2 separate regions of the Homo sapiens genome follow, and region 2 is linked to region 1. Evidence: fine-mapped expression QTL. A gene starts in region 1. The other region holds a variant in brackets. All regions are shown on one strand. Distances are from middle to middle. Region 1 holds the start of SGSM3 (small G protein signaling modulator 3). Region 2 overlaps MRTFA (myocardin related transcription factor A).

Region 1 (4,000 bases):
CTGAGACAGGAGAATTGCTTGAACCTGGGAGGCAGAAGTTGCAGTGAGCCAAGATCATGCCACTGTACTCCAGCCTGGGCAACGGAGCGAGACTCCATCTGAAAAAACAAAACAGAAAAAATCTTGAAAGGATACTAAGTCTGACACAAGGAAATTAAGTCATGGGACTCTGACCAGATATTCTGTCTACTTCCTTCTCTGCTATGGGCAACTTGGAGGCAGCAACTACTATCAGTTTATCTGTAATGTGAGAATTTATATTACATAACAGATACTGGGGATATAGGATACCATGGATTTTAGTTAATACATTTCCTCATAGAAAATAAGGAAATAACAGTCTTGTTCCTGTCCTAACAATTCTGTTAGACTAATGATCTCCAGTGATTGGCGATTTGACCTGGTTTCTTCCTGGACTATTTGAATGGGTGGATTTGTTGGTGCATCTCTTGTCTTCTTTCCTTTTCCATTCTCCTTTATTTTTGTATTTACATACTTGTATGCAACTTTGTAATCTGATTTTCCCATGTAACATTTTAATTTGATGGGTGGTCTGCGTGTTCACTGGAAAACATATATATATTAAATGTACATTTATGTATATATATAAAATATACATTCATATATATTATATATAATATACATTCATATATATTATATATAATATACATTCATATATCTATCTTTTATATATATATATAGACAAGATCTTGCTCTGTCGCCCAAGCTGGAGTGCAGTGGCATGACCACAGTTCACTGCAGCCTTGATTTCCTGGGCTCAAGCGATCCTCTCACCTCAGCCTCTTGAGTAGCTGGGACTATGGCACACACAACCACACGTGGTTCATTTTTTGTTGTTTTTTGTAGAGACAGGGTCTCACTCTGTTAACCCAGGCTGTTGTATTTTCTTTAAGATTGGTTTAAATTCACACGGACTCCAGCATCAGAACTACCCAGATGTCAGGTTCTGGGCAGAACTTGGGGCAACTGATGAAATGTCTGCTCAGCTGAAGTCAGACACCTGGACACTTAATGCCCTCTTTCCCTGGCTGATGCTCAGTTTCATTTAAGAACCAGGAGAGCCTGATGTTTGTAAACACAGCTTTAGTGGAAGCACGAGGGTTAGGAGTCCCTAGAAAGGTGATATGAAGCCTAGGTGGATGTGAGGGTTGGTGAGATGGGAATTGCACAGCATAGAATCTGACACAGAAGGTACTCAGAAAATTTCGTTTTCCGGCCTGGCGCGGTGGCTCACGCCTGTAATCCCAGCACTTTGGGAGGCTGAAGCGGGCAGATCATCTGAGGTCAGGAGTTCGAGACCAGCCTGGCCAACATGGTGAAACCCCGTCTCTACTAAAAATACTGTACTAAAAATACAAAAAAATTAGCTGGGCGTGGTGGCGGGCGCCTGTAATCCCAGCTACTCGGGAGGCTGAGGCAGAGAACTGATTGAACCTGGGAGGTGGAGGTTGCAGTGAGCCGAGATCACGCCACTGCACTTCAGCCTGGGTGACAGAGCGAGACTCCATCTCAAAAAAAAAAAAAAAAAAAAATTAGCAAGTTATTTGCAGCGTCTATCTCCCACCACCCTGACTGCTGGTCCACACCATACTGTCCCAAGCTTCTCAGGCTGCGGTGCAGACGAAGAAATCATCGCTATGCATGCTGGCCTTGGGATGGGGGCGCAAAGCCCCTGGACGCGCCCCGCCTAGTGGGCGGGAACGACTACAGCCCCCAGCATGACCCGCGGCCGCCCATGCCACGCCCCGCCACGCGTGCGCTTAGGCGCCGCTGAGCGCTGACTGGGTGCGAGTGGGGAAGCTGCTAACCCGACCCGGATTGGCGCTGAGGTGGCCCGTGGGGCAGGTGAGTGCGGGGCGGGAGTCAGCGGAGACCCACCGGCGCCTACAAGTTCCCCTCAGGCGGGGGCTGCGGGGCGGCTGTGGTCGGACTGTCCGACCGAGGGTCGTATGGGCCGAAGGCGCCCACGAGAGAAGCACCGCCTCGGGCCGGAGAGCCGCCGGGCCGACCTTGCTCGCGTCGCCGTTGGAATGGGGGCCGGGGACGCGGCGGGGCGGGGAGGTCGGCTGCGTCCTCCGGTGCGGCCGCCCCTAGACGGCCGAGGCCACCTCAGGTGTTCGGGGCGCCAGCCGGAATCCACCGCGCTGGCAGCCGGGAGCGGTTTTACGAAAACCGCGCCTGAGGCGGGGGGCTTTCTAAAAAGAGCCTGGCTGGCTCTGGCACCGGGACAGCTGCAGACTCCTCCTCAGGTTTAACTTGCGGTTTTCCCTTTAAGATTCAGATCCAGGTGCAGAACCCGGGCTCGGATCCAGGCCCGAGACTCGGAACACCGGTGTGTTTGCATTTTAGCACGGGGGAAACTGAGGCATACGTTAGCCAGAATCATCCGGTGTGGTTAGGACTGGAATTTTGAAAATTATTCTCATACTTAGTTTACTGACCTAGGCTCTTTTTTATTTGGAAAGAAAAATAAAGATGTTTCAAAGGTTGTTTTCAGTGACTGGGTGACTAGTGTATCTTCCAGTCTCACGCTGCACGTTTGTGGTGGGTTGATGGCTCTTTTTTGTTTTGCGGTGGGATAGAGATGTCCTGGAATGTTCTACACCTTTCTTATTCTTTCTTAGTAAATTCAAGTCAAATCAGACTCTGATTCACAAAAACTCATTTTCAACTTCGACTCGTTTACTCGTAGTTTTTGTGACAGGTTTGTGATTAGGTTTATAGGTACATATGTTTCCCGCTTTTCTTGCTCTTTTAGTTCCAATTATCTCTGCACTCTAAACAGTTGAATTACATCTTTGTTTTTACACTATTTCTGTTCTTGGTGATTAATTTGTAATTCTTCTTTTCTTTTCTTTTCTATTTTTTTTTTAAGACGGGAGTTTCGCTCTTGCCCGGGCTGGAGTGCAATGACATGATCTCGGCTCACTGCAAGCTCCGCCTCCCGGATTCAAGTGATTCTCCTGCCTCAGCCTACCGAGTAGCTGGGATTACAGGCGCCCGCCACCACGCCCGGCTAATTTGTGTATTTTTAATAGAGACGGGGTTTTTCGCCATGTTGGCCAGGCTGGTCTCGAACTCCTGACCACAGGTGATCCGCCCGTCTCGGGCCTCCCAAAGTGCTGGGATTACAGGCGTGAGCCACTGCGCCAGGCCCGATTAATTTGTAATTCTATAGATATCTTTCCTGGCTTTTGATAATCCTAAGTGAATGTAGCTTTTTCATCCCTAATTATCATAGTAGCCTGAGCTTTAGTTCTTCTCCCTGTCCCCCCCCCCTTTTTTTTTTTTTTTTTTTTTTGAGACGGAGTCTCGCTCTGTTGCCCAGGCTGGAGTGCAGTGGCGCGATCTCGGCTCACTGCAAGCTCTGCCTCCCGGGTTCACGCCATTCTCCTGCCTCAGCCTCCCGAGTAGCTGGGACTATAGGTGCCCGCCACCACACCCGGATAATTTTTTGTATTTTTAGTAGAGACGGGGTTTCACCGTGTTAGCCAGATGGTCTCGATCTCCTGACCTCGTGATCTGCCCGCCTCGGCCTCCCAAAGTGCTGGGATTACAGGCGTGAGCCACCGTGCCTGGCCCTCCCTGTCCCTTTTTAAGCGTGGAGGTGTGTGGTCTGGGAGGGGAGAGGGTGAGGTGTCTATTGATCAGATATGGGTAATAGGTTAACATAACCCATGACCAGAACATTAAAAGGCTGTAAACAAACAATTGCTTCAATATAAAAACGCATACCTCGTGAATTTGGAAACATGTCAGGTTGATAGAAAAGTGAACTCGGGTAGAACCTCACAGAAATGAACCCGACATTAGGGTGAAATATTGAGAAGGGAAGGGAGGAGATAATCATCTCTTTTATTTTACAGCCATCTTTCTATGCCTGGAGTGGATGTAGGAACAGCCTGCTGGCTCAGAAGCTTAAAAAAAGCTCTGTGTGTTTTCAGTTTTTCTCTTCTTAGTTCTCAATGAAGGTTTTGGC
Region 2 (4,515 bases), 46 kb after region 1:
CCACCTGCCCAGACCTCTCTCCTCAAACACCTGCTTCTGGCATCACTGCCACCTCTTGGGCCACTTTTCAGTGTCCCTTTGGCGGCAGGCAGCACCCACACCCACCATCTCCCTTTCTCTGCCATCCCTTAGAAGCTAGAGTTCAAAGCCTGTTCCCTTTTCCTTCTTGAACAATATCTCTGGGGTAGCACCTCCTTCCCTTGGAACCTCCTGAAGCTCACGCCAAGGCCTCGCTCCTGAGCGCCCAGCCCAGCCGTCCTCACAGCGGGTCCCATACCTGCCGCCTCAGTGCCACCTGCACTGGTGAGAGATGCGCCTCAGACCCCAGGGACCCAGGGATTCTCCCTAGGGCTTGAGAATTACAGACCTCACAGGAACACCAGTGACTGAGCTCTTGTCTTAAATTGAAATAAAATTCACACAACATCACATCTACTCTGGTAGAGCTGTGGTTCCAGGCTGAGCTCCCACTTTGCCTGCACCCCTCAGCCGCTCCTCCTCCTCCTGAAGCCACTGAGACACTCAAAGAGAAGTCCACGCTCACCACCCAGCATCGGCACCACAGGCCCAGACTTCTTGCCTGCTGCCGCCAGTGAGCTCCTCCCCAGGACCATCTCGGGGTCATCTGGGATCTTCTACTCCCAGCTGGGTCCCCTCACACAGACGCGCGCTATTTCCTGCCCAGCATCTGCCCTACCTCCTTCTTCCCCTCTGCAGGGGAACCTCCCAGAGAGCTCTCTACGGCCACCCCCACCCTGCTCCCAGGCCTCTCATGGACTTCCTGTTGTGCCCATGATGCCTACCTTCCGTGTCCAGGCCTCGGTCCTCAGCTCCCTTGGTCACGGCTGGATTCCAGGACACCGCACCCTGCCACTACTTGTCCTCCCGACCCCCAAGGCTGGGCTTAGCCCCAACCTCTGCTCCCCCACCTCACACCCTCGGCAGCCTCCCAGCTCCAACTGCCAATCTAGATGTGACAACACTCCAACTCCTACCTCCAGCCCAGACCTCTCTCACAAATGCCACTTGATGTCAACTGTCCCTGTGAACCCTCCATTCGGTCTCGTGACACACCCCATCAGGGACCGCGCAATGTGGTCCCACACGTGCCCCCTCCCCAGCTCACCCCATCAATGGCCACTCCACCCTGGCCCTTTAGGCCACAGCCCTTGAAGTCATCCTTGGCTGTTCCTTCCCTCTCCCCCCACTTCATCCATAAAGACACCAACCTGGCTCTCTCCAAATGGGGCTGATTCCAGCCGCTCCTCTGCCCGCCACTGCTGCCTGCTGGGCCAAAGCCCAGCTCTCCAGTCGCCCCCCAACCTGGGGCTCCCTGCTTCTGCCCTTGCACGGCTACTATCGCCTGGGTCCTGCATCAGACCAGGCCTTTTCTGCTCAAGGCTGTGCGATGGCTTCCCACACAATGGAGCCAAAGCCACCCTGCCCTGGTGCCCAGGAGGCCACGCATGATCTGGCCATGAAGGCCTTCTTCCCCTTTCCTCAACTCCACTCCAACCCGCCAGGTACTCCCGAGGCCGCACAGATGCACACAGCTGCCCCTGCTCACAGGAGACATCCTGGACCTTCCCCACCAGGCTCCCCAGACCTCTCCCTCTCCTCCATTTTTGTCCTAAGGCTCCTCTCGGATCTTCCATATGATCTGCTTATTTCTTATATTTGTTGTCCACCTCCCCAGGCTGCACTGTGAGCTCCACAAGGGCAAATGTCTCTTCTGTTCGTTGGGAGGCGAGGGCCTTGGGGCAGTGCTTCCAGCTGAAGGACGGCACCTTCCCTGGTCCTCTCGCCCAGGCCTTGGAGACGGGAGGGCTCACAGCCACCACTGCATCCACAGTGCTTGCCCAAGACTGGTCACGCACGGAAGCATTCAATAAAAACAAACCAACCCAGGGCTAGAGACACCTATGAACAGAGAAGGCCGTCAGGGAGGCAGCAGGGGACCTGGGGTTACCTCCGCTCTGAATGAGAATGTCAAACAGGTCGTCCATCTGCTGGCTTGAGGAACCATTTTCCTGTGGGACAAAGGAAAAAAAAAAAAGAGATAAAAATCTTGAATGGGGGCTCCCAGCCCGAACTACGAATGAGGCCCCTCCCTCTGCCCCAGAATAAGCAGCCAGATCCACAGGACCCATGGGCGTGCCCGGACTCCTGGAGCCCGTCCCCTAACAACCCACTCCCCAAGGCCTCTCTGACCCTGAAGCTGGGCTTCGCCTGCCCCCTATTCCTCCGGGTGGGGCTGTAGGAGCCTCAGCCCAGCAGCCTAGGGCAGCTGCCAACACTAGCCAGGCCTAGCCCGCCTTCCTCACCTGCTGTTTGGGCTGCTGGCTCATGGCTTCCTCATAGCCAGGTGGTTCCTTCTTCAGCAGAGAAGTGGGGGTCCCAAAGAGGGGCTGCAGTGGGTGCTCCAGGTCCATCTGGGCAGAGGGGGCAGGCGCTGGAGAGCCAGGCTGGGACGAGGGCTGGACAGGAGAGCAGGGAGAGGACCAGTGGCCAGGGGGCTGGGGGTGCAGACCTGCCTTGTAGGGGGCGGGGGGCGGGGATAGGGCCAGGGCCTCTCACACTCTAGGAGGGAAGATGGGAGGCACTGGCTTTTAGGGAGCTTTCATGAAAGCCACTAGGTAGGAAGGAATACAGGAT[G/C]GGGGGCCCTCAACCCTGCAGGGGGTGCCTGGCCCCTTGAGGTTTGGGAGAGGTCTCTGGGCTGGGCTGGTCACCCCCTGAGATTTCTGCAGCTTCTTTCTCTGCTTGGGGCTGCTCAGGGACCCCTGTCTCCTATCCTGAGGTACCTGTTCCTGTCACTGTCTTCTCTACCCCCAAGTTCTGCAGGACCACGAGGCTACATAAAGCCTTAGGGCAGCCTCACCTGTGGCCTGGGCTGAGAGAGGGTCTGCTGAGGGAGCTTTCCGCTGCTGACACCTTGGTGGGGACAGCTAGCCTCTCTGAGGAGAGGACCCTGAGCTGGATCCTGGCCAGAGGACCCCACAGCCTCTCCCCGGGGCAGGCTACCTCTGACCTTCACTGGCCACTCCCCACAGAGCAGCACTAGGGCAGGCCCAGCCTGGGTACGGGCTGCTCAGGAGTCCTGCTGCTGAGGTGCCGAAATGTTCTAGTCTCAACAGCCAGAGAGGTGGGGAGCTCACCAATGGCTCCGCCCTACAGCTAGGGGGTCTGAGGCAGGTCCCTTAACTTTCCTAAGTCTCAGTACCCCCCTGGTGAAGGAAGATTAAATGAAGCAAACACAAAATGTCCAGCACGAGGGGTCCCCTGGCCCAAGAGGGCTGTAGCGAGACGCTCTTCCCACCCTCCTCTGGGCCCTGCCCGGTTCCTCCCATACCCAGGTACCTGCTGGGGGCTCCCACTGGACAGGCCAGGGCTGTCTGCATTCTTATTGGTCACGGTGAGGACAAGGTGGGTCCCTGTGGAGTCGGTGATGAGGGTGGGAGGTGCAACCCCCTTGATGAGGCTGGGGCCCTGAGGCCCCAGAAGCAACTGGGGGGCGGGGACCGGCTCGGGCTCAGGCTGCAAGGCTTCCTGCTTCACCACCACGGACGGGGGCCCCGGGGCCACAGCACAAGGGTCTATGTGGTTGGTGGCTGGGGCCGCCAGGCTGGGGTTGAATGGGTGAGCGGGGCCCAGGGGCTGCTGGCTCAGCTGGCAGCTGGAGAAGCTGTTCTCCTGCTTCACGGGGGTGCCGAGGGGGGCGGGGGCGGGGGCGGGCTGCTGGGCTCGCTTCTCCTGCTCCAGCTGCAGCTTGAGCCGCTCCACCAGCTGCTGCTTCTGCCGGAGCATGCGCGTCAGCGCCTCGATCTGCTTGTCTTTCTCCTGCAGCATCTGGTCCTTGTCGCGCCCCTCTAGCTCCGCCCGCCCCCCAGGGCTCAGGCAACAGGACCCGGCCCGGGGGCCCTCCTCCTTCACGAGGATCTGCAGTGGCGAGGCCTGCAGGGTCAGCTGCGTCAGAGGTGATGTCACCATCTCACCAAAGGTGTCCCCGGGGGTGGAGTTTTCATCGCCCGTGCTGAGCAGTGAGCGCTCCGAGGGGGTGGGAGACACGGGGGGCGTGGAGCCCGTGCTGCCAAACTTCACCACCCCACTGCTGGCCACCGTGGCCACCACCACCTCAGCTGGAGCCAGGCCTGCTGCCACCAGGGCTGGCCCCGTGCTCAGCCGGGCCGCTGGGAAGGCTACCACCACCTCGCCAGCCTTGTGCAGGATAGAGGTGGCGGCAGGGGCCTTGGGGGCTCCTGGCACAGGGCTGATTTGGTCTTGATAGGCTCGAAGGCGCTCAATCAGCTCAGTTTTGGTGCCCGAGACAGGCAGTGATCGCAACTTCAGCTCCTGCTTCAGCTCTGCCACCTGCAAGGCAGTCAAGAGTCAGGGAGGCCAGGGGCAGCTGGACACAGGGCACTGGGTCCAGGCAGAAGGGCAGTCTGGGCCCCATGGGCCACTGCAGATGCATCAACTACCCTAATCCTCCAGCAGCCTGGAGGGTGCAATGCCCCC

Evidence for each region. PIP is the estimated chance that this variant, and not a neighbour inherited with it, causes the effect. A credible set is the group of variants that fine-mapping cannot tell apart.
Region 2: its variant is the best candidate, but not a certain one, in a credible set for the expression of SGSM3 in whole blood (TOPMed, PIP 0.63).

Annotation. Positions count from the first base shown.
Region 1 is chr22:40,368,823-40,372,822 of GRCh38, forward strand. It overlaps SGSM3 (small G protein signaling modulator 3), which reads left to right and starts at 1,772. Exons shown (of 22, transcript NM_015705.6): 1 at 1,772-1,866. ADSL (adenylosuccinate lyase) reads left to right here. Exons shown (of 13, transcript NM_000026.4): 13 at 1-545. RefSeq lists an enhancer at 1,458-1,667 and silencers at 1,818-1,927, 1,988-2,157.
Region 2 is chr22:40,415,017-40,419,531 of GRCh38, forward strand. MRTFA (myocardin related transcription factor A) reads right to left here. Exons shown (of 15, transcript NM_020831.6): 12 at 3,358-4,368; 13 at 2,325-2,477; 14 at 1,970-2,030. Among named protein-coding and RNA genes, the nearest start is that of SGSM3, 47 kb to the left of the region's middle. RefSeq lists enhancers at 270-669, 1,375-1,874. The variant G/C (reference allele first, on the strand shown) is at 2,656.